7 linked regions of the Homo sapiens genome follow. The protein of the gene in region 2 purifies or fractionates together with the protein of the main gene of each other region. This does not show direct contact. Each region holds a gene or a part of one and is shown on either strand. Other genes may lie near its edges.

Region 1 (4,025 bases), on a different chromosome or scaffold from region 2:
TATGCTTCTGGAGATACTGTACAATACCACTTTTAAATGCGTCAGCACTAAGATACTCCCTTAGCATATTCAGAATACAAGCTCCCTGAAAAGATAATAGAAATAATTGTTATCTATAGTTTCATTGCAGTCTCATCTGAAATCACATATTCTTTTGCAATAAAACACATTTCTTTGAAAACGCAACTGCAGGAACACTGTTAATGTCTGGCAATTTGTGAAACAGAGTAAGCAGGTTAAACCTGGACCTGTTTAGGCAGGAGATTTGTCTAATGTGATTGCTTATGCTCTGAGCCCACTGAGGCCCTTATTTTCTATCAGTAGCCAGACCTCCCGATGGGGCAAATTAGCATCATCTGCCAACTCCCTTTGTTCACATGTGAGTGGGGATAATGGTGCAGATTAAACATTGGACCTTGAGCTACTACCTGGCTCTCCCACTGCCATTCCAGGGCAGGACTAAGGAGAGGCCAGTACAACAAGGGGTGGAGCACTAGAGATGGAGGCAGAGGTAGATGCCAGGGAAGGAAAAGTGGATATGTCCAGGGAGCCCAGGCAGCCTTGAGCATGGAGGGCTGATGGAGCTGGAGTCACAATGAGAAAGGGAACAAGAGTCTTCCCAGACACCCTGTATTCCTTGGTAAAGGGCTCTTTTCCCCTCCACTCCCATTACCACGGATGGTGAGTCACAAACTCAAATGCCTCCAGTGGCACATGACAGGGCATATAAATAAGGGAAGTAGTCCAAGGATAAGAAGAATGCTCTTTTACATTCTTTTTCCCCTGGACTTTCAATGGAAACATGCAAGCAAGAAAGACTTTTCTGTTTGCTACCGGTAAAACAACAGCCAAGCACAATGGTAACTGGCAACACACTCTCAGCCTCGGTGAGAAGACAATAGAACAGTTGGGAATGGCAGGGAAAGTGGAAAAGCAGAGCCTTGATCTTACAAAGAGAGAACAACAACTTAGCTCCAGCTTATGCTGCAAAGAACATACAGTGGCCAAATCCTCCTTTTTCTTCCCCAAGAGAAGCTAGAAATCTGGATTTTACATAAAATCTCCCAATCATTAAACTGTTGTCAACAATTCCCAACTCTGTTACTAAGCACACTGTGCAAGACAATTATTTGCGTCTCAACAATATTAACCATTGCTGAAGGCCTTGAAAAGTAAGCTACACGAGGGCAGGAATTTTTGTCTAGTACAAAGTTGATGCTCAATCAATACCTATTTGTTGAATGATGAATAAAAGCAGAGTTTCTGTAAGCCATGAATTTTCAACCCAAGAAAGAATATATGAAGAATTTCCCATAAAATAATCTTTAGGGTTATGAGCCAAACTGCAAGTTAGTCCTAAAAGAGTTGACTCCAGCCAGCACGTGTCAAGAGAGAAGGCATTCAATCTGGGTTTAACCCCACAACCTTGCCTATAACTTCTCCACCCCAGTATGTATAACTTTAGTATCTAAACTGTATCCTTATACTCAATCTACTTTTACCTTATCATAAGAAACATCATCAAACATCTCCCGGATCTGAGCAGGATTTTCCACAGGTGTAGACACAGGGTGTGAGGAATTTAAAGCATCTACCTCCATTGCGTCAAAACATTTGCCAAAGAAATAATCTCCCTATTGAGATAGAAAAAAGAAAACATCACCTATGATTTACATTTAGATAAAAAATGTCAAAGGTGGGACATTTTATCTGAGGCAAGAAGTCCATACTTCACATTTTGGGGGCAACCTATTCCATATTTCCTAATATTTATGAAACAAAATAGAATTAATATATTCTAAAAGCTACCCAAGAAACAATGATTTTAGTTAAACATTATAGATTTTGTTCATCTTAAGTCCTTTAGAATAAAGAAAATTTCGTATTAATCTAAAAACGAAACAATTATGCCTATAGCCAAACAGCAACACAACAAGAAATTAACTGTATAGTAATTTCAACATTTCCAATCATTGTCTGTACTGTTTTAGAGCAAAGATACTTACCTTTAAAAACATAATGAAAATAAATGGAGAACCTTAACCAGCTTTATTAGAGCACATTAGCTCAACAGGACAATATGTATCCATAATCATTTTTATTACTAAAGATCATGTAGAAACATAAGAAAATATTTAGGATTATAATGCAATATTGATGTGTACTTTCTAATTATGTACACAGGCAGATGAAAATAGGCAGTAATAAATATTCACAAATGTATATTTTAAATAATGTATACAGGCAGATGAAAATAGGAATAAATATTTACAAATGAAAAGAATCATTGGAGTAGGATAAAAAAATTTTTACATAAGTTTAATTTTGCTATATGTGATTTTCTTAAGTTAAATGTGGTGATTTAAAAAATAAACCATATAGCAGTTCCAAAGCAATAAATTTGTGATCCAGAAGCCTAGGTTGTTATACAATCAAATGTGCAGTTACCTTAAGTATAACTCATTTGATTTGGCAAGTAGGGTCCTATTGAGATATCAGTAATCTGTACCTAATAATTCTGCAATGAGCAACCTGAAGGTTGGGAAAATGAAATGGAACATTTAGGCTGCCATTATTTCTATTTCTTTGATATTAAGAAATATAAAATCGGACAATTTACAAACAATCATAGATTCACAACTGAGTTTGTAAATAAGTCTTTGTGGTATATCTTGAAAGTTCACTAGCATTTTTGCAACACGATTCATATCTAAACTGTCAAGGAAGTTATCAGTGAAATATTTTTATAAGTTCTATAATCAAAGATTAGTGAATATTTTCCAGCAATATTGAACAAAACAACAAATTAACCTCAAATGTGAAGGATAAATAACTACTTACAACTTTCAGTTCAGGATGGGTCACACTGACAGACACAAACTCCATAAATTTGGCAAATCCTTCATTTAGCCAAAGATCATTCCACCATTCCATAGTGACCAGGTTCCCAAACCACTAAAAGCACAACATAAGCCATAAACAAAGACACTCAGAAAGAAGTATATTTTAGATGTCCAATATAAGTTTATGAATGTTAACATATATTTACAGGACCAATATTTAATCAAGGTAAAAATAAAAAAAGTTCAACATGCATTATAAGACATAAAAACGAATGCTTTGGAGAAACAATTTTTCCTATTAAAAAAAGACAAAGTAAAAATTATATAAATAGCCTTATATGTCCCATAGAAGCAATATAAATGTAGTTTATACTTTATTAAAAGTGTGAATGAGCTTATACCTGGTGAGCCAGTTCATGGGCCACAGTCATTGTGATGCCAAGCTTACTTGATGCAGAAGACTTTTCTGCATCAAACAACAGAGCAGATTCTCTATATGTTGTCAGTCCCCAGTTTTCCATAGCACCAGACTGAAAGTCGGGAATAGCAGCAAGATCTTGGGAAGGAAGTAATAAAATACATTACCAGTCTCTAAGCTATACATTCTCCCAAACACTAATCTTCAGAATGGATAGGTGTTTGAACCAGCTGCCCGTGCATAATCATGGAGCTCTAGACTGGAAGAACCTTTCACAATGGAGAAAAAGAGGCTTAGTGACTCAGCATCACTTTGCTATAAATGTGGCAAAGTCAGACTTGCATCTCAGGCCTTTTTTTTTTTTTTTTTTTTTTTTTTTTGGAAACAAGGTCCCACTCTGTCACCCATACTGGAGTGCATTTGCAGTGGTATAATTACACCTCACTGCAGCCTCAACCTCCCAAGCTCAGGTGATCCTCCCATCTCAGCCTTGCAAGTAGCTGGGACTACAAGAGTGCACCTCCACACTCAGCTAATATTTTTGTACTTTTGTGGAAACAGGGTTTTGCCATGTTGCCCAGGCTGGCCTCAAACTCCTGGGCTCAAGTAATCCACCTGCCTGGGCCTCCCAAAGTGCTGAGATTACAAGACATGAGCCACCGTGCCCGCCTTTTCAGGCCTCTTGACTCCATTTCTAACCTTCTGATGAGGAGTTTGGAAATTGAAAAACTAAACAATTATAATAATCCATTCTATTTTGGATG
Region 2 (4,234 bases):
AGATGTGCAGGGCAAGTGATTTATTAAAGCAACGTGTTGAAACCTTTACAATTTTTAGTGAAGATCAGGGTGTCGTTGAAAGACTTTGGAAACCAGGTTGAGCATTTTTACATGTCACACACCACATTTTTTCACTATTTCCACCTGAAATCAAAAAAAAGAAAGAAAGAAAGAAAGGTGAGGTCAGTCATGCTGCTGCTGGTGATGATAGGCTAACATCAAAGAGGCCAATGGGATTTTGCCCCAATGGCAATTGGAAAGGCAGAGGCAAGAATTCAGTTTGGGAAACTGAGGCCTAGACCTGGTGGCCTTACAACACCCATTCTGGTGAGAAAGCAGCCTTTCCCCACCAGACCAATAGACCTGGGAAGACCCAGGAGTTAGGCCCAGGGTTTTCATGGAGGAGGAGGGGAGGGGTTGACAGTGCAGCAAGAGGTTGTTGTCTGGGCTGTCCCAGGTCTGTGGAGTCTCCTGATCCCTGTAATGGGGGACCCAGGGCTCTGAAGCCAGGCAGGGCAGGGAGGGCTTCTGGGAAACACACCTTCCAGGAGACTCCAGTCTTCCCATGGGAGAATTCTGCCTAACGGCCAGGGGTCTTATCAGCCCTGACCCTGCAGCTTCTATGGGTATTTGCAGCCAAACCTCAGGACAACAATCCAGAGGCAGCCAGGCTGAGAGGGCCCTGGAATCTCTGATTTCTTGAGAAAGACATAGTGAGAACATCCCACTTGTGTGGCGTTGCAGTAGGTAGAGCAGCGAAAAAGTCTTGGCCCACTGGCTGTGGTCAGGAGAGTGTCATGGATGAGGAGTGGATAGTGGGCCCTGAGGAGCTGCAAGGGGCTCCTGGCTCTGCAGAAGCTGCACAGGAGCCCAGTTCACCAGCACCCTGTCTGTGGGAGGCCCAGCTCTAGGTCCCCTCAAGCCTCCTCTCCCTGTTCAAATCTCCCACACTCCCTGGGACATCCCATAGTGACCGTGTCCACTGCGTGAGGGTAGGTTGACCTCAGGAAAGATCCCAGCAGGGAGGCGGCCGTGCTTGGCCCTTCACCATCCCTGCCTTGGCCCTAGCTCACTCCCCATGTCCTCAGCACACTCTGGGGACACAGCATCCAGGCAGGTGACCTGACAAGAAACATGCAGGAGGCTGTGTGCAGCTGAGTTGAATTCTGCCTCTGCATAAAGGAGAAAGAAATTACCAGGACTTTTTCAATGAGAGTCGTTTCTTAAAAGATATCTGATCGGTGCAGTGCTTCACTTCCAACTTGGCTGCAAGAGCTTCTGGAGGTGGATTAAGTTTGGCAACTTGGAGGTTTACCGCAGCGTCACTTAAGAATAAGAAGACTGTGATCTCAGAAGCAACAGCTGGGCAGACAAGAGCATGGGCTGCAGCACAAAAATAAAAATATTGTTGATGTTAGGAAAGTCGATTTTTCTCTCATGGCTCCCTGAGGTTACACCAGACAGGATCCCCTGGGTTCTATGTTTCTATACCATTATTGTGCTGATGACAATACCAGAAACTCCAGGTGTGACTTTCTCCGGGTCACACAACAAAGGGAAGAGCTTCATATCCTCAGCTAGACTTCTTTTTCTTTTTTTTGAGATAGGTTCACCCAGACTGGAATGCAGTGGCACAATCTCGGCTCACTGCAGCCTGAATGTCTTGGGCTCAAGCGATCCTCCCTCAGCCCCCAAAGTAGCTGAGACTACCAGTGCCTGCCACCATGCCCGCTTTTGTGTGTGTGTGTGTGTGTGTGTGTGTGTGTGTGTGTTTTGTTTTGTTTTTTTTTTTTGTAGAGATGGGGTTTCGCCATGTTGCCCAGGCTGGTGCTGAACTCCTGAGCTCAAGTGATCTGCCCACTGTGGCCTCCCAAAGTGCTAAGATTACAGGAATGAGACACCATGCCTGGCCCACAGCTTGACTCTTGACAACCATAACCTTACTTCATTCTCATAGCCACTCCTGGCAGAAGCTTTAACCACCAGTGATAAGAGGAGGCTCAAGGAGGGTGAGCATTGTGCCCAAGATCAAGGGGTGGGAAGTGTCGAAGCCCAGGTTCACCCCAGACCTCACATTACATCATCTGACACAGATCCCATTCAGAAGTGAAGCTCAGGCAGAAGAATTCCTAACATTTGCCTGAACTGATTTTTCTATAAAACTTCTTAGATACTGGGGATTAGAAGAAATAGCTCTAAGCAGCCAGGCGCAGTAGCTCATGCCTGTTATCCCAGCACTTTAGGAGGCCGAGGCGGGCAGATCATCTGAGGTCGGGAGTTCGAGACCAGCCTGACCAACATGGAGAAACCCCATCTCTACTAAAAATACAAAATTAGCCAGCTGTGGTGGCCCATGCCTGTAATCCCAGCTGCTCAGGAAGGCTGAGGCAGGAGAATCACTTGAACCCCGGAGGCAGAGGTTGCAGTGAGCCAAGATCATGCCACTGCACTCCAGCCTGGGCAACAAGAGCAAAACTTCTCAAAAAAAAAAAAAAAAAAAGGAAGAAGAAAGAAGAAATAGCTCTAACCTTTATGAATCTTATTCAACAAGCACAGAAAAGGGTTTGGAATTTTGTTTGGTTTTGTGCAGACCCCAACCCAAAGCACAAATAGGTGATCTTGTGCTCAGAAGAGGGTGCATCCCAGGGGCTGGTGCTGGACTCATGACTGATGTACTCACCCTGGTAGCAGCAAAGGGCCAGCGAGACCATCAGGAGACACACTGACAGCCTCATGGTGGCTTATTCGGCTGTGAGCTCAGCTTTCACAATGAGTGATTTGGATTCGACTCCAGGAGCCTGTGTAGTCATGGAGGCCAGGGCTATTTGTACCTAGGGAGCCTGGCTGGTCCTACCTACCGGGGCACCTGGTAGGTCATGAGGCCTGGCTCCCAGCCCGCCCTTCCAAGCCAGGGCTGCTGCCGTCCATCAATGTCACCTCCTTAGGAATCTCTGCATCTGAGTGGGGCGGAGCACAAGACAGCAGCCTTGTGAGAACTCTGCTCTGTGCTCCAGGTGAGTGTTCAGGTACATCTGGAAATGTTCCTGGGATCCTCAATTTCCTTATGAGCTTTTGCTGATTAGTTCTTTTTATCTTTGTAGCAGTGCAGGGGCACAGGTGAATTATGGCTTCACAAGGCACAGGAAGCTGGAAGGCTGTGTTCTCTTTATGGGAGAGCAGGGACATAAGGAGACCCTGCTTTGATCCCCCTGCATGTCTGACAACAAGCAGGCTTGTTTCAGTTGCACATTGGGAAAGTCTAATCCTTCCCCTCAGCCCCTTCCATCACCACCATGTTCACTGCATAGGTACTGAAAACATAGTTGAATACATCCCACCTGTAGAAGATATGCTGAGGAAAAACATCTGCTGCACCTGTTCTCTAGCCTGCCTCACTCCCAAACCTGAATCTTGTTTATACGTGCAGTTATATATATGGCCAAGATTCACATTTTCTATCTATAAAAAGCAAGCTTTCTGTGATGTGTAGCCACCCACGTCTTATCTTAGGGCTGATCTGAAGATTAAATAACCTAACTCTTTTTCTCAAGAGCTTTTGGAGTGTTCAGAGCCAATCATACATCAGTGGGGCTCTAGGCTGGGAAGATAATAGAAGGGAAGAGACAGAGGAACAGGGTGGGTGGTCACTTCCCCCTAACCCCTAGGCTCAAGTTTTCCACTTCAAACCTATCTGTGCTGCCTGGGCCAATCCCATTTTTAAGGGAAAGTGAAGGAAGCCCCCAGACAAAGCAATACACACCCGCCTTCCCTCCCATTGCCGTGCCTTCATGTGGTGTGAGTTTAATCACCAGAAATTTTTCTCTTAAATAAACTTACATTTGAGAGGAGTCACAGCCCAGGCCATAGCTTTCCATTCTCAGCTATGTAGTCAAATCACTTGGAGCTTTTAAAACATACTGACCCCACAGGCTTCTCTCTCTGGCGATTTTGATTCAGTAGCATTGGGGTGAATCCCTCCTTTCTGTACTGTTTAAACTGCTCTGGTGTTTCTCACAGACAGCAGGGCTGAGATCCAGCCAGGAAAACCTTTAAGAAGGAAGGGGACCTTACGGGTTTTGTCATCAAAGACACATTGACAGATTTAGTTGAGTCCAAGCTGAGGGCAACAGTGGATCTCACTTTCATCACACAGGATGACGACGGAGTCCCTGAATCAGCCCTGCTGCCACCAAGGAGGGGGAGGGTTGGTGGTGAGGTTTACAGCTATGAGGGT
Region 3 (4,025 bases), on a different chromosome or scaffold from region 2:
TCCAAACTACTTTAAAATTATTGCCCATATACATTAAAAGGGTAAAGGGAGAACAGATTGTTATACATCCATAACTCCATGGCTCATTAGGAACCTACACATCCAAGTGAAGGACCGGGTACCCAATGAAACACTATAATAAAGAAATAAAAATATGTACATACATATACAAAAGTATATACCCCAACACCCACCAAAGAATCCCTGAAGCTAATCAACTACTCTCTTAGACACCTGCCCACACAGACAATCTAAGGGAAGGGCAGAAGAGGAGAGCTGCTACAGGCTGAACCTCAATTTTCTTCATATATCCATGTAAAGGACAAGGTAAGAAAGGTAGTGACAGAAAAGTAGCAAAAACATTTATATACATGTTTAAAGTATATACTCTTACCTTGAAACCTCTCCTAGCAAAAAATTTTCTCTCTCCTAGCAAAAAATCTTCAATAAACCCAAACTACTCTTAAGTATTGCCCACATGGGCAATAAGGGAAAGGGAAAAGAGGAGACTGTTATACATCCGGAACTCCATGGTTCATTAGGTACCTTTCAGTCTGGGCACCCGATGAATTAATACAATGTAGTAGTAAAAACATGTATATACATTAAGTGCATTTTCCTACCTTCCCCGTCCCTCCCCCTCACCTCAAATACGCCACTTGACAACTACTCTGTTAGCTACTGCCCAGCAGTCAATAAGGGATGAGGAGAATGGGAGACTGTTATACATCGAGATCTCCACATTTCATTGGTACTTTCACATCCATGAGAAGGACACAGTGTGAACCAAATTAGTAATACAATGTAGTAGCAAGTTTATTTATATACATTAAGTACATACTCCACTCTCCCCCACACCCCAAAACAAAACAAACTACTCTATTAGCTATTGCCTAAATAGGCAGTAAGGAAAAGGGAAAAGAGATTTGTCATACTCTGAACCTCAATTTTCATTAAGTATATATGCATCCATACAAGGAAACAAGTATAAAATGAAGTATAAAAAGGTGGCACAATATTTATACACACTTGAAAGAATAATATACAACCCCAGCCCCAAGACTAGATCAAAACAACAGCAACTAGGACTACTCTGTCAGTTATTGTCCATGCGAACAATAAGGAGAAACGCAAAGGGGACATCTGTCATGCTTTTGGACCACCGCGTTTTATCTACACGTCCACAAAATGGATGAATGAAATACAAAATGAAATAACACAAAATAGCAAAAACATCTGTACACACTTTTAAAAGAATATAGCTTGCTCTCCTCTCAACATCACCACCTTCTTCCAAAGAAGGAAACCAAATAACTAGTCTGTAGCTACTGCCCATACAGGTAAAATGGGAAGGGTAGATGAAATTTTCATAGGATGATATATCACTCTTCATCAGGAAAAAAATATACAAAATGAAATAATATAAAAACTATCAAAAACATGTATGTACATTTTTAAAGTATATACTCCCAAAAAAACCACTGAAAAAAATCGATCAACTTTTCCATTAGCTGTCACCCACACAGGCAATAAGGTTAAGGGAGGAGATTTACCATACTTTTGAACCGCTACTTTTCAGGTAGTACTTAACTGGCAAAGCAGGGAATGGAGCACAAAATAAAAGAATGCAAAAACAAGCAAATATATATATAACTTAGTTTTTAAAAATACAAATGGGATGAAGGGGGAAGGAAGCTCTTTAAAAAGAGATTTAATTCCAATAAATACAAAAGTAACAAAGGCATAGGTGAGAAGAAAAGCTATGTCATATCCATGGCCTCAGTTTTTAGAGAGGCCTAAGTAACAAAATCCACATCTAGTTTTGCAGCCCAGGAAATGCTGTCCTTGGAGGTGGCTCATCTCAGATGTATTTGCCTTCCCTGAAGCCCCATGAAACATGGGGATTATGTGAATGTTTAGCAATCTGATGGCAGATTATGGTTCCAGGTACTTTGGTTTAAATAGACTCTTTTTAAAATCCATCTCAACAAACTGTCAGTAATCCAACAAAATCAACACTTAACTCTTTTTTTTTTGTTTTTTGTTTTTTGAGACAGTCTCGCTTTGTCACCCAGGCTGGAGTGCAGTGGCACAACCTTGGCTCACTGCAACCTCCGCCTCCTGGGTTCAAGTGATTCTCGTGCCTCCCAGGTAGCTGGGATTACAGGTGTGCACCACCATGCCCAGCTAATTTTTATATTTTTAGTAGAGATGGGGTTTTGCCATGTCGGCCAAACTGGTTTAGAACTCCTGGCCTCAAATGGTCTGCCCACCTTGGCATCCCAAAATGCTGGGATTACAGGCATAAGCCACCGCGCCCAGCCAACACTTAACTGATTTCTTATTTCCTAATAGAAAGGATTCTGTTTGGTATCCTATAATACTGATGCAGCTTGATTTGCTCTGTACACCCAGGAGTCTTCTGACAACTCTTGTGTTCCTGTGGTGGCTAATGTCCCACAAAATGGAAACACATATGGCAAGGAAAATTAAAGTAGAACCTGTGATAGTAAGAAAGTTCATGAATGCTGAAACAATGACAACAAAATTTCATTTAAAGAGACTTAAATAAAACAAGATGGAGGAAGGCCCAAGCTTATGGTGAAGCTGATACTACTTGCAGTTTAATATATCTAACCATTTTATATTAACAGAACAAACTGGACTTATCTAATTCCTACATTCATAACTTTTTTAGATCTCCAAAGCATAAACATTTCTTCCACAACTCAAGATTTCCAATTCTTTTTTAATAATCTAGTATGATGACCCTTTTATATTCAAGTAGATCTCTCTGCAATGAGAACACTTGTTCAACAAGTACTTGTGTCATGAATCTGTGTGCTTAAATAAAAGAAGCATACTGTGACTTCTGTGCTTCAGTCTGAGTTCTCAGAAATACACTGGCTAAGACAATGTTTTGAGAAGATAAAACTTTGAAAGCTACCATTATACCTATTACACTACAAGTTCTACCTCTCATTTAACCTTACATTCCTGACGTAGTTTTTAGAAGTCCTATATAGATGGGTTAGTTCAACATTAAAATTATGGAATTCTGTGGGAAAAACTGAGGCAAGGCCTACTAAAACTACAAATAATTAAGGTAAGGGCAACAACATCAAAAAAACTACAACTATTATGGATCTGGTATTATGGGAATGAACAGCCTTTGAGTAATAAAGATAGCAATGGATCATGAGTTATCTCTTTTTCAGGCCAAGTTTTGATAAAGTTTTACTCATAACAATACCCCCCACACTACACACACACACACACACACACACACACACACACACACACACACACACAGAGAGAGAGAGAGAGGGAGAGAAATGATATAATTCAAGACAAGATTTGCCATATGCAGAGTTAACTAACATACATTATAGGAGCGATGTCAAGAAGCACAGGTAAAACTGAAGAATCTTAAGTGATTTTGAGAAGTTACAAAATTTAAATTTTGTATCAAAGTGGAATTTAGTACCACATGGTAAAAAACCAGCAACGACAACAAAACTCTCAAAAGTTTAGTATTTTTCCCTCACTCTAAAAATATAAAAACACATTAACTTTCACTATCAACTAAATTATCATTCATTTAACCAAAGCACAAGAATAAAGACTTACAATCACTTCAGTTGAATAAGACATATTTAGATGATTCTGTGATTCTCAGGATATAATATTTTCTACTCTAAAACAGATAAATTTTAGAAAAGACTAAATTGGGGAAAACACACTAGGATTAAAGAAGACTATTTTTTTAGCTTACCAGCCTTTTAAATTTTATTATATAAAAATATTTTCATAAAATAAAATATAATTTTATTCACAATTCCATACATTCTAACTTGATACCTGCCGAATAAAAAAAGGGTGACCTTTCCCACTGTCTGACTCTGTGGAGTGTTTTAAGTGCTCACAAATGGGTAAATACCCTTTTTATGTACATAGAAACTGTTTTCAAACAAAATATAAAGTTCTCAAGAATTATTAGGAAGAAAGCTTTTCTCCTAAGAATC
Region 4 (4,025 bases), on a different chromosome or scaffold from region 2:
GACTGGTAGGTAAGGGGTGGCTTGTCGGGGACAGTGGTCTCCACAGATGCAAGGAGGCCTCTGGGCAGAACAGATGCAGGTTCCCTGGCAGGGGCAGGGTTTGGGTAGTGGGATAGGTCACTTACTTGTTGGGGAAGACTCGGGTGATGCCACCGTCTGTGGCAGCGAACACGGCCAGTAGGCTGTACCTGGGGGTAGCAGGGGGGTGGGGTCACAGGCCTGCCTTCTGCTGGGCAGGTCCAGGGCCTCTGGGCCCATCCTAGCCTTCTGCCCCCACAGGCTGGGTGATGCCTACGTGTTGAGATCCTGGTCCCTCCACACACGCTCTACCAGCTGCTGCGTGATGCCCGTGTCCAAGATCAGGTTGTGCAGAAGGAAGTTGTTGCCTGGAACAGGAGGGGAGGGGTGGGGGTGGGGGCATCTTCTTGCAGCTCCTTGCCCACCCTCACCCCCACCCTTAAGGCTCCACCAGGAGCCTCCTCCATGACCTGGCCCTGGCCCAGGCCCAGCCCTTAGCTTGTGCCTGCTTATTTCCACACCTGCCCGGCCTCTGGGTTCCTCTGGGCTGGCCCCATGCTGCCTGGGCACTGCCCAGAGCCAGCTGCCCTGCCAGGCACTCACACTGCTTGGAGTCTGGAGTCACTTTCTCCATGAGCTCAATAAAGTTTTTCAGGAACTCGGTGTTGTTGTCTGAGGCATTCAGGTCCTTGCAGTACTCTCTAGGGATGGGGAGGGGCAAGAAGAGTGGGCTTGGGGGGCTGGACAGGGCAATGGGGTCAAGGCTTCCCAACAGGCCCACTTGGCCATTCACTGAGAAGCCTGGGCCTCAGGGAGGGGCACATGGGTTCTTCCTGGCTGCAGCTGCTACATGCCTGGCAGGCTGCTCGGGTCTGAGTCGGGGCAGAGCTGACACAAGAATGAGGGTCTACTTTCTCCATTCGGGCAGCTGCTTTCTCCTGGGCATGGCTCCGCAGAGCCTCCCGTCTCTCCGGTGTAGCTGGACCCAGATAGTGCACCTGAAAGGCCCCAGGAAATGCCTGGCGGCCTGCTCATCCACGTGTATGCCCTAGAGCATTCCCATGGGCACCAGATGGGACCCAAGTACAAGCACTGGCTTTTTGTCAGCCTAAGACCTCACCCTGCCTCTTCCTGGCTGTGTGCCGTTAGGTAACTCACTCACGCTCTCTGACCCTCGCTTTTTTCATCATAGCACAGAGGGTGTCAGAAAGTCAGTGGGAACATGTGGGTCCTCCGACTGGCTGTTCCCTCTGCCTGGAATGCTCCTCCCCTCAAGACCCTCACTGCATTCAGGCTCTGGGTCCAGAGAACATGGGGCTGTGGGGCGTGAGGGGGTCTGCTTGGGGCTTGCTGCCTAGGAAGTCTTGGGAGCAATCCCTCTACCCTGATAGGTGGAGCTCTCTCTCGCTCGACCCCTCATTCATACCTCTGCCACCAGGGACCGCTTCATTGTCCCATATGGCACTAACTGTGGGGCTTTTGAACGTGTGCCACTTCCCCAAGCTGTGGTAGGGCTCATGGCTTGGTAAGGGCACATGGAACTGGGTCTCAGGCCCCACTCTCTCCTTGGCCCCCAGGGCCTTTGTGCAGTGTACAGCCTGCACCTCTGTGCCTAGAGGCCACATTGGACACACCCAGGGTGACACCCACACGACTGTGCTTGAGATACACCAAGTCACTTGCAGTCTCTCCTGTATACACAGTATGCACGTGCACATTTGTGAGGTACTTCATTCACTCACCCTCCACGTATTTATTGAGCTCTTCTGAGCCACAGACACAGAGATGACAAAAACGAATAGGGTCCCTGCCTTCAAGAGAGCTTCCTCAGGGTCATGTGGGCCACATAGGTCTTTTCACACCTTCCCACATTCACTAACACACAGAGCCACCCCCACATTTATGCTCAGACTCTTACATATGTACATGGTGACTCACAAATACACACATCTACAGAGAGAGTCACAGAGAAACTGGGTGCATGCACATACGTGCACACACGAAGGTGAGGCATGTCCAGAGCCCCCGTGTGCTGCCTTCCAGTGCCCCTGGGTCTCTTGTCAGCTGCATCCACCCACCTGCCCTCATCCCAAGCCTGGGTCATGGAAGGGCTTCAGCACCCAGGGGACCCGGCCTCCCCAGACATGGGCCAAAGGCAGACGGTGTGTACATGAGAACGTGTGTGTGCACACTGAGCGTGCACTCCGGGATGGTCCAGGCCTGGGCTTGCTCGGGGCCCCGTCTCCTCATCTGATGGAGCAGCTCCTCAAAGCCCCCACTCTCCTCCCCCAACCCCCCAAGTGAAGTACCACGCCTAGACCCGGCACTGCCGACAGGGGCTCTGGCTGGCTCGGCCCCCAGACCCACACGAACACCGACTGACACAGGACAACGATGGGGTGCGGGGTTGGGGGGATGGGCAGGACACCACAAACCAGAGCAGCAGCTGCCTGGCGAGGGGTGGGCATGCCACAGACAGCCACCCCAGGGCGGAAAGGGCTCCTGCCTGGTTGCCTGGGAGGGCAGGGAAAGTCAGCAGATGAGTCTGGAGCCCTCCTGCCCCGGCCTGGTGGGAGCTAGGGCCGTGAGGCAGCTGGCCACTGCTGCCTGGTGCGGTACATGGCCTGGGTATGCACACAGCCGCGCATACCGGGCGATGTATGGGGGCCGGGGGATGACACTGCACAGGACACAGACACACAGAGCTCCAGGCAGCAGTGCAGGAGGTGGGGCCGGGGCGGTCAGGGTAGGGGAGGACACCTCAGCAAGGCCACACGCAAGCTACCTGGGAGCAATGAAAACGTGTCCTTCAGACTCAAAGCTGCTGGGGAGCAGGAACTCAAAATCTGCAACAGAAACGGGGGGTTATCCGGCGGGGGCTGGGGAGGCTGGAGGCCGGGGGGCTCAGAGCTGACGGGGCTGGAAGGACAGGGGAGAGGGGGGCTGGAGGGAGGGGGAGACACCAGCAAAGAGGAAACCCGCCATTTCCACGTCCAGGAGCCAGAGAGAAGGGACGGGCAGGGAGGGTGGAGGGCCTGTGGAGACTACAGCATCGCAGGAGGAGGGCAGTTATAGCCAATATGTTGCCCGGGCCTGGTCCTCTGTCGGCAGTGAGTCCCTTGGCGTGGCTGTATATGCTTCCATACGGCTGTATAGCACATATACACGGACACACACACACACATATATATACACACACTGCTATATATATGCATGGTCTGGGGGAGGCGCCAGTCTCGCTCTTATCACATCCATAATGGAAAAAACCGCATGCTGAGCTTCCTTTGCCTCCAAAGAGACTTTGAGGAAGGGAATTGGCTTTTGGCTGCGGATTTTTCTCTCTCTTTCTTTGCCGCAGCTGTTTGCGTTTTGGTAGGTCTTGCTTTTGTTCTGTGTCAGGCATCAACATGGCCAAACCGAGGGGGTTTCTCACGGGCACAAACAGTCCAACCAGAGACGGGTCGGGGCAGCTGAGGGTTCACTGCAGTGCATTGTCGGGGCTGGTGGTCCTCCCTGGGCTAGGAGGTGAAGGGAGACCCTCAAAGTGCCAAGGAGTGTTCCCACAGTGTGGGAAGAAAGTCTGAGGAGCTGGAAGGAGGACAGGGGTGCTGCTGGAAACTGTACCTGCTTCCCTTGGCTAAGGGCGTGGAGACGGGCTGGGTCTCCACCCTTCCTAAAACCTGTCTGGGCTCCAGGCAGCCATGGGGGATGCTAGGGCTCCAGAGAGGGCATAGGGCTGCTGTTGAGGCATCCCCAGTTGGGCCTGTGCCCTGGGCTTATGAGCTGTGCATGTGTGGGTGAGTGAGCATGCATGTGTGTGTGTGTGTGTGTGTGTGCCTAAGTGTGAGTATCTCTGTATGGGTTTGAGAGTGAACCTGAGGATGTGGCCGCTGGGGCTCCTCTGTGGCCTCTCCCTGCCCAGCTGGACTGGCCACCTTGCTGGTCTGCACCTGGGAGGGGTCCCTCTGCTCTTGGCCTGTCTCACTGTGGGTGGTCCACCTTCTTAG
Region 5 (4,025 bases), on a different chromosome or scaffold from region 2:
TAGGTATATTTGGAATAGGAGTCAGGAAGAGATGGTGTGTGTAGGGGCAAGTCACTTTTGTCCCTCATAGAAGCAATGTCAGGGAAGTGGGAGGTCTTATTTCCCTGGAGGGGAAGTATAGGTTAGCCCTTAAGATCTGAGTTTGAATCCTGGTACTACTTTGCTACTAGTTGTATGATCTTAGGTAGGTTACTTAACTGCTTTGAGCCACAGTTTCCTTGTCTATAAAATGGAAATAATGAAACTGATTTCCCAGGGCAGTTATAAAGTTAAAATCTGTATATAGTACCTCTTAGGCATGCAATAAACAACAATTGCTAATATTATTAGTGTAATAATACTGCAGAAGAGGATGCAGAAAGTCCATTTCCTTTTTACATGGGGGCAGACTTCAACTTTCGTTATTGGACTATCATTTCTGAAAATGAATGACCCCTGATCTTATGATAGTCGCTAAAGAAAATATTGAAATATTAAATCACAGGACATAATACTTAAGGTAGTTCCACATTCATTATTTATTCATTAAGAATTTATGAGTGGGAAGAGGGAGGGTATTAAAAAACCACCTATTGGGTACCACACTTATCACCTGGATGATGAAATAACATGTACACTAAAGCCCTATGACAGGCATTTTACCTATATAACAAACCTGCACGTGTATCCCTGAAACTAAAATAAAAGTTAAAAAAAAAAGAATTTATAATATTGGCTCCACTAGTGTGGCAGTTTTCCTGCAATGCAGAGATCCAGAATATATATGGATGTTTTTGATAAATATTTGAGCTTTGCTTGGACATTTACATACTCTAATTCTAGAATTTCACCTGTTAGGTCTTTTCTGTGATCTCTGTTATCAGTCTCTCTTTTTTTTTGCAACAAATAGTACCTACATTGGGGTGCATGTTGTTGTGGCTTGGTTTTCAGCTTTATTCTTAGATCTTCTTTTGGGAGAAGGGTTCCTTGTATGCCCATAGGAAAGTTCAAGTACTCAAGACTGGGGCGGGCAAAGCTGTCCTGGGAGCAGAATGGATCTGTGGGAAGGAAGGAGGGAAAACGCTGCTTCTTTCATGGGCTGTTTTTGACTCTATTGACATAGAGTTTCATTGAAAATGCCATTGCTAGGAGCACTCTCCTGTTTCAAAGGAGAATGTTACTGTATTATCAGAGGCTGGGAGTTATTGTTCTCAGAGCAGATGCTTCCTGTAATGTGAGGACTTGAGGATCAAGACACTTCTCCCTGCTTGTCTTCACATCCTTTGCTTTATCTGGCTTCTCCAGTTGTAACAATATGTAGATAAACCAGGACTTCTAAATCAGGGGTCTGGATCTTCAAGTATCTGGATGTGGATTCATGTTTTGTTTTTTCTCCATCACATAAACACCAAACACCAACAAATAAATACCTTTTATTTTTAAGGGACAGAGTCTCACTCTGTTGCCCAGGCCAGAGTGCAGTGGTGAAATCATAGCTCACTGCAACTTGGAATTCTTGGGCTCAAGTGATCCTGCTGTCTCAGCCTCCTGAATCAGCTGGGACTACAGGCAAGTGCCAGCATGCTAGGTTTAAAATTTTTTTTTTTTTTGTAGAGATGGGGTCTTGCTATGTTGCCCAGACTGGTCTTGAACTCCTGGGCTCAAGCGATCTTCCTGCCTCAGCCTCCCGAAGTGCTGGGATTATGGGTATGAGCCTGATTGTTTCATTTTCCTATGAGCCACCCCCAGCCCCCCAACAGAAGGTTGGTTTTAATAAAGATTTATCTTCTAGTAAAGTTGGGTAAGGCAGTAGACTGTGTCTTAGTAGCTTATTTCCAGCAGTTTTGGATTTCTTAGAAATCCTCAGGATAGGGAGGTGTTTTACCCAAACCACAATAGATTTCTGGCTCAATTTGTGTTGGAAATAGTAATAACTAAATTGTTCAAATGGAGAATGTATTTAATAAAGGTGAAAAAGTATGGCATTTCTTCAGGGAAGAGTTCATTTGTTTGTTTGACAGATATGGGGGAGATTTTATTTACATTTCCACTTTTATGGCCAGGAGTGTAGGTTATATTACTGTTATTCATTTAAAAATACATTAATTCTACATTTATTGGGGATTGATTGTAGTTTTTTTTTTTTTTTTTTTTTTTTTTTTTGAGACACAGTCTCACTCTGTCACCCAGGCTGGAGTGCAGTGGTGCGATCTCGGCTCACTGCAACCTCTGCCTCCCTGGTTCAAGCGATTCTCCTGCCTCAGCCTTCCGAGTAACTGGGACTACAGGCATGTGCCACCATGCCTGGCTAATTTTTTGTATTTTTAGTAGAGACGAGGTTTCACTGTGTTAGCCAGGTTGGTCTTGAACTCCTGACCTCGTGACCTGCCTGCCTCGGCCTCCCAAAGTGCTAGGATTATAGGCGTGAGCCACCGTGCCCAGCGATTATGGGCTTTTTTTTTTTTTTTGGTGAATAATAGACCTTTAGAAAAAGTATTTCTGCTACACTTTGCAGAGTTCTGGGAAGGTGTATCAATGCCTTTCTAGTAGTGAGATTCAAAAGATTGCTTGTCACTGTTACCACTGTCACTGCCTCTACCACTATCAGCATCATTGCCATCAGCTCCATAGTGATTAGAACTATGTTCCTAATCTTATCTTCCTTTGCATAAAGAGTTAGTTAAATAAACATAACTGGCAAAACGTAGTAAAAGTTCAGCAGGTAATAATTACCAGAGGAAAGAAGATGGCACAGCTATTGGCATTTAAAATCAAGTCAGATTACTGTTTTGGGTGGAGAGTGAGTCTGTCCCTTTGTCTCTTCCCATATTTTTTTTCTCTTTCCTTACTGTGAAAGGAGTTCCTTGCCAAATCAAGAAAAAAGAAATTAAGAACATTTTGAGAACTGTCCTCTCATCTGTTAAGGCATATAAAATAATTTAATTTTCGTGATGTCCTTGAAACCATAATTTCTGTTTTATTTTCCCTTCTCTTGCTACAATTTGACATTTTCATTTGTAAACTTTCAGTAGTTTTCCTGAACAAGAGTCACTTCAAGTAATAAAGAATATAACCTTTCTCCCTCATTAATGAATTCATCATCATTAGTTTCATGTAAACCTGATTTAAGAAAAAATGCTAGAGGCTGAGTGCAGTGGCTCACAACCGTAATCCCAGAGCTTGGGAGGCTGAGGTGGGAGGATTGCTTGAGCCCAGGAGTTTGAGACCAGCCTGGACAACACAGTGAAATTCTATCTCAAAAACAAAAACAAAAGAACCCTTAAAACCAAAAACTCCCAAAAACCTAAACTGAAAATGCCTACTGAAATTTTGGGAACTCTGCATGGGCGTCTCCAGGTGAGTGCCTGCTGGTTTGGGGGCACCATTTTTTAAATGCTGCCAATCCTACTTCCATCTTCCCATTGAGTTACTGGGGTGGAATGTGCTCTATAAATGTGTCTGTAACTCGCTTTTTCTTTTTGCCCTAAAATCCTGGAGAGTTAATGGAGTGTTAACCTTTTTTTAAAGATTTTTTAAAAAATCTATTTTTTCCTTTGTTGTCTTTCTCACATTGACTATGATATATTTTATTTTCCATCTTGGCTCAGTAAGGGTGGGAAATTTTTAAAAATTGAGATATTAGCTGAAAAACTTAAAAAATCATCCAATTTGGTTTGGATGGTTTTCTGGTGGAAACAAAGCTCCTGAACATGCATTTCATGCCTCGTAGATAAAAATCAGTCCCATGGTCTTTATGAAAGTAGATTAATTAGTGTAGTGTGTGGGCAGATCTCCCAGAGCAGGTTTTCACAGGCAGCTTTGCCAACATAACTCAGTCTGAACCTGCAGTTATGTTAGAATTATTTTTAAAGGGTGTAGGCTTTTCATTCACACATCGTCTTTGTTCTTGTGTGTGATGTATATTAACAGGTAGGTGGTACCTGAGAATAAAGGACCACAGCATAATCACGATGTGCCTGGGCTCTGGAGCCTGGCTACCTGGGCACAGGTGCTGGCCATTCCACTTAGTGGTTGTGTGGCTGTGG
Region 6 (4,025 bases), on a different chromosome or scaffold from region 2:
CAAAAAGCTAAAATAGTGGTTCTTATCTTTGTGGTCATGGACCCTTTTAAGAGTCTACACAATTTCACCTTACACAAATGCATAGATGCTCATATACAGAAATCATGTCCAGGAATTCAGGGATTCCATTCGTAGATCTAACCCTGGGTTAAAAAATCCTGCATTAGAAGAATGCTTACTACAGTACAAAAAAAATGGGGTGGGGGCAAACAGTGCAGATCTTACGCTACCATTCAGTGTTGTGTTGGAAGCCAATGCAATAAGACAGTAAAAATAAAAGTATAACTGTTGGAAAAGAAGAGACAAAACTGTCCTTATTAAAGATAGGATTGTCTACCCAGAAAATCATCTGAACAAAGTTTTTTTAAAAAAGAGAAAAAAAAATATATATATATATAGACAGAGAGAAAGAGAGAAAGAAAGAGAAAGGAGGGGAGATTAGGGAGAGAAAATTTAGTGAGCCACTTAGAAAAATATATCATTGATGAAAAGAGTCAAACTCTGTAAAATATTTTAAGAGATTTATTCTGAGCCAAATATGAGTGGCCATGACCCATGACACAGCCCTTAGGAGGTCCTGAGAACATGTACCCAAGGTGGCTGGGGTGCAGCTCGGTTTTATTCATTTTAGGGAGGCATGAGACATCAATCAAATACATTTAAGAAATACATTGGTTTAATCCAGAAAGGCAGGAAAATTCAAAGCGGGGAGAGATGGCTTCCAGGCTACAGGTAAATTTAAACATTTTCTGGTTGACAATTGGTTGAGTTTGTCTAAAGACCTGGGATCATAGAAAGGAAATGCTCAGGTTAAGATAAAAGACTGTGGAGACCAAGGTTCTTCTGAAGTCTCATAGTGGCTGCCCTTAGAGACAATCAATGACAAGTGTTTCCTACTGAGACCTTTAAAAGCTGCTAGACTCTCGGTTAATCTCTTCAGAATTGGGAGGGCCTGGAAGAAAAAGAGCTAGCTATGTTAACAGAGATTCCTTACAGATGCAAATTTTCCCCAGTAAAGGACAGCTTTGCAGGGCCATTTCAAAATGTGGCAAAGAAACATGTTTTGGGGTAAAATATTTTTATTTTCTTCTTGGTCGTGTAGTGTCATGCCAGAGTCAGATGGAAAGTAAGTCACAGCATATAGGGTTAGATAAAACCATCTGATGAGAATTTATGGTTTGTAGGGCATGACTCCCCAGACCCCTTAGATAAGAATATAGGCAAGATAAAAAAATCAGAGCTTAGTCCTCAACATACAAAAAGTTATTGATTTTCTTCTATCAGTTAGAAGAAACATTTTCTAACAACCAGTTAGAAAATGTTGCAGAAAAATGCTATTTACACTAGTAAGAAAAACAACATAAACCCAAGGAATCAACTGAATAAAAATGTGCAGGACTTATGAAAAAAACTCAAAAAAATTTTTGAGAAATATATTGGAAAGACAAACCTTGTTTTTGGATAAGAAATCATCCCACTATCTTAAACTGATTTAAAAATATCAGTTATTCCTAACTGAATCTATAATAGAATGCAATTTTAATTAAAGTTTCCAAGAAAATTTTTTGCATTTTTGTAGATAGGAGTTTGCAAAATGAATCCAAGTTTTACTTGGTAGAAAAAGCAAGAAGAGTTGAGCAAAATAAAAAATAGAGTGATGAGAAAGCTTGTGCTATCAAATGAAACGATAAAATTACAGTTTTGGTTTTGGTGCTGGAACAGGCCAACACTCCACACAACCATGGGCATAACAACACACGAGAACTTAGGCTATGACATGGTGGCCTTTCAGAGTGGTGGAAGCAGGCTGGGATGAGGGCTCACCCTGTGACTAGAAATAAAGGTACTACCTCACATGGTGCTCCCAAATAAACTCCAGGAAAAGGAAGTATCTGAGTGCAAAACAGGAACCAAAAAGTCTTTGAAGAAAACAGAATGTATAAAATGTCAATGAAAAATCTATAATAATTGTGTACCAGATACTGTCCTATATCCCTTCATTCAACATTCACAATTGGACTTATGGCCTTGGACATAGGTACTATTACCATCCCCACTCCAACAGATGAGGAAACCAAGGCCCAGTGAGGTAACTTGCCCAGGGCACTCAGCTAATAGCTGAGGTCTGAAGCCTGGCAGTGTGGGCTCAAGTCTGCCCTCTTGACACTGAGCTCCCACATATGACCATCATTACAACAAAAGCAATATGAGCAGACTGGAAGCAGACTGAGAGCCAGCAACAATCTTCCCAGTGTAAGATATAAATATTTTGATGGACTGTTATTAGGTGCATAAATATTTATAATTATTATATCTTGCTGTATTGAGCCTTTTATTAATATATGATGTCCTTCTTTCCCTCTTGTAACCTTTTTTGATTTAAAGCCTATCTTGTCTGGTATTAGTATAGCCACTCTTGCTCTCTTTTGGTTACTATTTGTGTGGCATGTCATTGCCCATCCTTTCACTGTCAATCTATTTATGTTTCTGGATCTAAAGTGCATCTCTTGTAGAGAGCATATAGTTGGATTTGGCTTTCTAAATCCATTCTGCCAATCTCTGTCTTTTAACAGAGAGAGTTTGGAGAGTTTAATCCATTTACATCTAAAGTAATTACTGATAAAGAGGGACTTCTTTCATTTTGCATTTTTTTTCTGTATACCTTATGGATTTTTTTGTCCTTAATTTCCAGTATCACTGTCTTGTGTTTAATTAATTTTTTTGATGGTGAAACATTTAAATCCCTTCCTCATTCCCTTTTGTATTTATTCTTTAGTTATTTTCTTTGTTGTTACCATGGGGATTGCATTTTAACATCCTAAAATTATAACAGTCTACACTGAATTTATACCAGTTTAGCTTCAATGGCATAAACAAAACTCTGCTCCCTGAATGGCTCTGTCCCCAACCCTTTTAGTTATTGATGTCACAAAATTACACCTTTATATATTATGTGTCCAAAAGCATAATGTTATTTTTAAATCAGTCTCTTAAATTATGTAGAAAACAAAAAGCAGCATTACACACCATTGTTACAGCAATATTAGCTTTTATAATTGTCTATATATTTACCTTTACTGAGATATTTATTTATTTATTTATTTTGAGATAAGGTCTTGCTCTGTTGCCCAGGCTGGAGTGCAGTGGTGTGGTGACAGCTCACTGCAGCTTCAACCTCCCAGGCCCAAATGATTCTCCCACCTCAGCCTCCCCAGTAGTTGGGACCACAGGTGTGCACCACCATGCTTGGTCGATTTTTAAAAATATTTTTATTTTATAGAGATAGGGTCTCCCTATATTGCTCAGGCTGGTCTTGAACTCCTGGGCTCAAGTTATCCTCCTGCCTCGGCCTCCCAAAGTGATGGGGTTACAAGCATGAGCCACTATGCCTGGCTGAGATCTTTACTTCTTCACTTGAATTACTGTCTATCACCCTTTATTTCAACCCGCAGGACTCCCTTTGGCGTTTCCTATAGGGCAGGTCTAGTGGTAAGGAACATTCTCAGCTTTTGTTGATCTAAGAATGTGTTAATTTCTCCCTTACTTTTAAAGGACAGTTTTGCTGGATGTGGGCTTCTTGGTAGACAGTTTTTATTCTTTTAGCACTTTGGATATATTGGCCCACTGCCTTGTGGCCTTCAAAGTTTCTGATCAGAAATCTGCTAATAGTTTTATTGAGGATTCCTTACATGTGATGAATCATTCTTTCTTGCTGTTTTCAAAATCTTTGTCTTTGGGTTTTGACAATTTGATTAGAATGTTTCAGTGTGGGTCTCTTTGAGTTCATCCTGCTTGGAGCTTTTTGGGCTTCTTGGATGGTTATATTCATGTCATTCATCATATTTTAGAAGTTTTCAGCCATTATTTCTTCAAATAGTCTCTCTGCTCCCTTTGCTCTCTCTTCTTCTGGGGCTCCTACAATGTTTATGTTGGTTTGCTTGATGGTATCCCACAGACCCCTTAGGCTCTGATCACCTTTATTCAATCTTTTTATTTCTGCTCCTCAGACTCAATAATTTCCATTT
Region 7 (3,891 bases), about 28 Mb from region 2:
ATTAGCAGCTTAATTCAGCTGATCTCAAATGCTTAGGGGAAAAGTTTTTTTAAAAAGTTCAAACATATGCCCTATTTAACATGTGATAACACATATTCTATATTAAATATCCTGAATTGATTATAGTGCATGCCACACAATCACTTGTTCTGTTGCTAACAATCAGATATTGATTAAAAATGATTAAAAAAAACAAGAATTAAAGGAAAAATTAAATTGCAATAATTACTATTTTACTCCAAACTCATATTTCAGACCAAATATGCTGTTCTGGCAGCTCGCATTTGTCTTCAGGAAAACTACCAGTAGGAAGAACACCCAAGACATTTCTAAACCTTTGTGCTTTGTCTCCTTTAGAAATGATAGAGTTGGAGGGAACTGATGCCCAGAGATACGTAGTGATCTACTCAGTTGGGTAGTAGATAGTATGATTCATGGGTCTTAATGCAGTATATTTTCTACAACACAGTGCTTCAAGGCAAAAGTTAAAGTGTTATACTTTGGTAGTGTAGCGTGGTAGTAAAGTTAACTCCCTTTTACAAAAGTCTTAATTGTGTATATTTATACTTCATAAATAGCACACCTTATTGCCTCTTTAAGCAGAAGGAATGGAACATATTTAAAAGTTACCTTGATGACAGAGTCATTGCTATACTTGCAACTTATTTTATTGTGGGGGATCAGTGAAATACCCTCTAGTAATACTGAGATGTATAGAAAATGCCCCTAAACTAAATGCCCCCACTGTTTTAAGTTAAACTGTATTGTTGGCCTGGGAGCAAGGGTAATGGGTAGTTTTTCCTTGTAGTTAAGCTTTGAGCTGTCATTTCTTATTTTAGTTATTGTACTTGCCTATGAAGGCTCTTCTAATTTTTAATTCTTAACTCGTTTTGGTGAAGTAGATGAACAACCAAGTTTATTGAAGCTTTAATCATAGTTGAACATGTAATTGAGTCACTGGGATCTGCATAAAAGTTTGCAGATTCTGATATACAGTCTTTATAGGAGTTAGAATATGAAGATTGTAGTAGCTATTTTCATCACCCATCAGACTTATATGTTTATTCAGTAGAGCTGAAATTATTAAATGTATGAATATTACTGGCTTTTTCCTGACCATTCACACTTCATGGTGATTTCACAAGAGAAGGTATATGATTCTGGTTTCCTTGCAGACTTGTTTTTTATAATCACGTTTATTGAGGCTTAATTTTCATACAATAAATTTTATATATATTTTAAGTTTACAATTTGCCACTCAGATCAAGATACGGAAAATTCTCATCTATTGGAGAAAGTTTCCTCATACTTCTTTGCAGCCATCCTCCCCAACCTGCCACTTGGCCCAGGCAATCACTAATCTAATTTTTAACACTACAGATTAGTTTGCCACTTCATCTAAATAGAAACATATTTTATGTAGTTGTTTGTCTGGCTTTTTTCCTTCAACAATGTCTGCCAATAATATTGCATTTATTGAAAGTTACTTCATTTTTATTGCTGAGTAGTAAGTAGTCTATTGTGTAATGGATACCACAGTTTATACATTCGTCTGTGGATGGACATTTGGGGTTTTTACGCTTTTAAGTTGCAATGAACATGCATACAAGTATTGCTGTGATCATTGTTTTTCCTTCTCTTGAATAAATAACTAGAAGTGGAATTCTGGAGTCCTAAAGTAAAAGTGTATGTTTAACTTTATAGGAAACTGCCAAACTGTTTTCAAAAGTGATTTTACCATTTTACATTCCCACACTCACAATGTCTGAGAATTCATGTTCCTTGCTATAATTTAGGGAATTTTCTTTTACTTTCTGCCACACAGGAGTTTTTTACTTCATTAGATTAACACTTTGCTAATATAATTATTAACTTTTAAAGAGCAAAAAAAAAAGGCTTTGCAGATGAAAAGACCAAAGCCTATAATCAAAACATGACATGAAAAGAGTTTAGAACACCCTGGCTTCATAAGTTATCAGAAAGGTGAATTTTATCCTCAGACTTTTAGCAACACCTTTAATGGCTAGCCACTTGAGACCTTCTATAATACTTCTTTCAGAGTTCCTGCTGCTGCTTGAATTGTAAAAGCTGCAATAGAAATATGTTTCTTTACTTCTTTCCAGGCCAAACGAGAGTTGGCTTTATTTTCAATATCAAAGATAGCATCATAGATTCCAGGAAATGATTCTCCAGCATATTTGTTGTGGCTACTTGGAGCAAATATGATGTGCCTAAAAGGAAGAAAACAAGGCAAATTGAACTAAAGTGTATACATGCATTTTGCATGCTTTTTGTTTAGACCACATGATGTTTCCTTGTGATACTCACTTTTGTTCCTATAATAAGAAGACAGTTGATCTGAGATACTTATGCGAATCATAATTTCAAGCCAGGAAAGAAGCTAACAATATGCATTCGCTAAGACATATCTCAGGAATCATATACCATGTTGCGAACCCAAAGCAGATGGAAGAAAGCAGGTTCTTTTAAGTTGTGCAGAATAATTGCTCAGCGTCCCGTAAGCATCCACAAATATGGTGATAACATGTAAGTTTATGGATGTTTTTAGTAAGAGGAGATTGAGAAAGATAATTTATTTTTGTGTTGCCTTTTAAAAATAGATTAAACAAGAATGACAGTTGTTCCCAATACTTTTTAGACATTAAAAAACAAGTAATTAAAGAAGCCTGTATTTCAAAGTGTTACAAATGGCAAGGATAATGACGTCCATTCCACAAAGGTAAGACAGTTATATGTGGGTTGCCCGCAAAGACACTCAACTTTTGATCTAAAAAGAAAGTTTTATAGTTGCTTTTCTACTTCAACATAAGTAGCTCAAGGGATCAAGCTACTTTCCGCAATAATGACGTAGAATTTTGCTTTCCAGAAAGGGATGTATTTTATTAATACATCAGGAATTAGGTCCAACAGTCAAACCCCAAAGCTTATTCTAGAGTAAATCTGTATGAAGCAATATAGAGCTCCATATAAGTCAGTATTAATGATTAATGATTAATGACAAATCTATAACACTCATCATTCAGATTTACCAAAGTACATCAGGATTTATTATCTTGGCTTTTAAATCTTAATATGGCCTCAGATGGATTTTTTTAAAATTAAAATCAGTTTATGTGCTAAGTTGTTTATAAGCATTGGTATCCTGACCTGTATATGAGTCAAGAAATTAGAGATGCAAGTCATAGATATTCCTTAGTATACTTACCCTCTTCTGGAGAATTGTAAAGGAAGAATATAGCAAAAAAAATTTGATATAGGAAGCGAATAACCTTTGAATCATTGATATGGCATTTAATATCTCAGTGACCTTTGGCAAATTGCCTAAGTTGTCTAAATTTGTCCCAGATTTGTAAAATAATTGAAATAATGTAGACTCTGCTTAGAGTAGTGACTGAGCAGGTTGTAGACTGAGACTGCCTGTTTTTTAAAAATCAGAATACTAGCATATTTACTATCAACAGAATACTATCAACTATCAGCCTTGTGGCCTTGCACTGGTTATTTAACCTCCCTGTGCCTGTTATCTTAAAAATGATGGTGATAAAAGTACTGTTCTAAAAGAATTGTGAGAATCAAATGTTGGATGAAAAGCATAGCTTGACATTTAATAGGTGTTCAGTAAATATTAGCTATTCTGAAACTAAATCCTTTCCCTAATTTTCTCAGATAAGAAGCAGGCAGCAAGCTAAAAGAAATGATCAGACAATTGGTAATGCTTAAGCAACTCAAATACCCTTTTATGAAATGGTGGACTCAAATAGCTATTCTAGTCCCATAAGAATTCAAACTCTGGTCTAGTTCTCAAGGTTTCAAGTATATGATGATTTAATTACCCTCCACAATGGACATTTCTGAATTTTTAAGAGGCAT

What was found.
Region 1: the proteins of SCGB1D4 (region 2) and ERAP1 purify together in Homo sapiens (affinity purification with mass spectrometry; 2 studies listed by BioGRID and IntAct, with this or other methods). This does not show direct contact.
Region 3: the proteins of SCGB1D4 (region 2) and LNPEP purify together in Homo sapiens (affinity purification with mass spectrometry; 2 studies listed by BioGRID and IntAct, with this or other methods). This does not show direct contact.
Region 4: the proteins of SCGB1D4 (region 2) and CACNA2D2 purify together in Homo sapiens (affinity purification with mass spectrometry; 2 studies listed by BioGRID and IntAct, with this or other methods). This does not show direct contact.
Region 5: the proteins of SCGB1D4 (region 2) and CD109 purify together in Homo sapiens (affinity purification with mass spectrometry; 2 studies listed by BioGRID and IntAct, with this or other methods). This does not show direct contact.
Region 6: the proteins of SCGB1D4 (region 2) and COL6A2 purify together in Homo sapiens (affinity purification with mass spectrometry; 2 studies listed by BioGRID and IntAct, with this or other methods). This does not show direct contact.
Region 7: the proteins of SCGB1D4 (region 2) and NAALAD2 purify together in Homo sapiens (affinity purification with mass spectrometry; 2 studies listed by BioGRID and IntAct, with this or other methods). This does not show direct contact.

The regions. Positions count from the first base shown.
Region 1 is NC_000005.10:96,790,559-96,794,583, forward strand, and holds part of ERAP1 (endoplasmic reticulum aminopeptidase 1 isoform b precursor), read right to left. Parts: intron 3,489-4,025; exon of another isoform or gene 3,429-3,488; intron 3,400-3,428; coding exon 3,245-3,399; intron 2,956-3,244; coding exon 2,842-2,955; intron 1,635-2,841; coding exon 1,503-1,634; intron 86-1,502; coding exon 1-85. UniProt on the Homo sapiens protein: Aminopeptidase that plays a central role in peptide trimming, a step required for the generation of most HLA class I-binding peptides.
Region 2 is NC_000011.10:62,296,276-62,300,509, forward strand, and holds SCGB1D4 (secretoglobin family 1D member 4 precursor), read right to left. Parts: upstream 2,801-4,234; 5' UTR 2,736-2,800; coding exon 2,681-2,735; intron 1,384-2,680; coding exon 1,197-1,383; intron 145-1,196; coding exon 135-144; 3' UTR 6-134; downstream 1-5.
Region 3 is NC_000005.10:97,029,908-97,033,932, reverse strand, and holds part of LNPEP (leucyl-cystinyl aminopeptidase), read right to left. Parts: 3' UTR 1-4,025. UniProt on the Homo sapiens protein: Release of an N-terminal amino acid, cleaves before cysteine, leucine as well as other amino acids. Degrades peptide hormones such as oxytocin, vasopressin and angiotensin III, and plays a role in maintaining homeostasis during pregnancy.
Region 4 is NC_000003.12:50,367,517-50,371,541, forward strand, and holds part of CACNA2D2 (voltage-dependent calcium channel subunit alpha-2/delta-2 isoform b precursor), read right to left. Parts: intron 2,865-4,025; coding exon 2,804-2,864; intron 720-2,803; coding exon 622-719; exon of another isoform or gene 387-621; coding exon 296-386; exon of another isoform or gene 280-295; intron 189-279; coding exon 126-188; intron 6-125; exon of another isoform or gene 1-5. UniProt on the Homo sapiens protein: The alpha-2/delta subunit of voltage-dependent calcium channels regulates calcium current density and activation/inactivation kinetics of the calcium channel.
Region 5 is NC_000006.12:73,698,678-73,702,702, forward strand, and holds part of CD109 (CD109 antigen isoform 1 preproprotein), read left to right. Parts: intron 1-4,025. UniProt on the Homo sapiens protein: Modulates negatively TGFB1 signaling in keratinocytes.
Region 6 is NC_000021.9:46,104,466-46,108,490, reverse strand, and holds part of COL6A2 (collagen alpha-2(VI) chain isoform 2C2 precursor), read right to left. Parts: intron 1-4,025. UniProt on the Homo sapiens protein: Collagen VI acts as a cell-binding protein.
Region 7 is NC_000011.10:90,189,898-90,193,788, reverse strand, and holds the end of NAALAD2 (N-acetylated-alpha-linked acidic dipeptidase 2), read right to left. Parts: intron 2,232-3,891; coding exon 2,042-2,231; 3' UTR 895-2,041; downstream 1-894.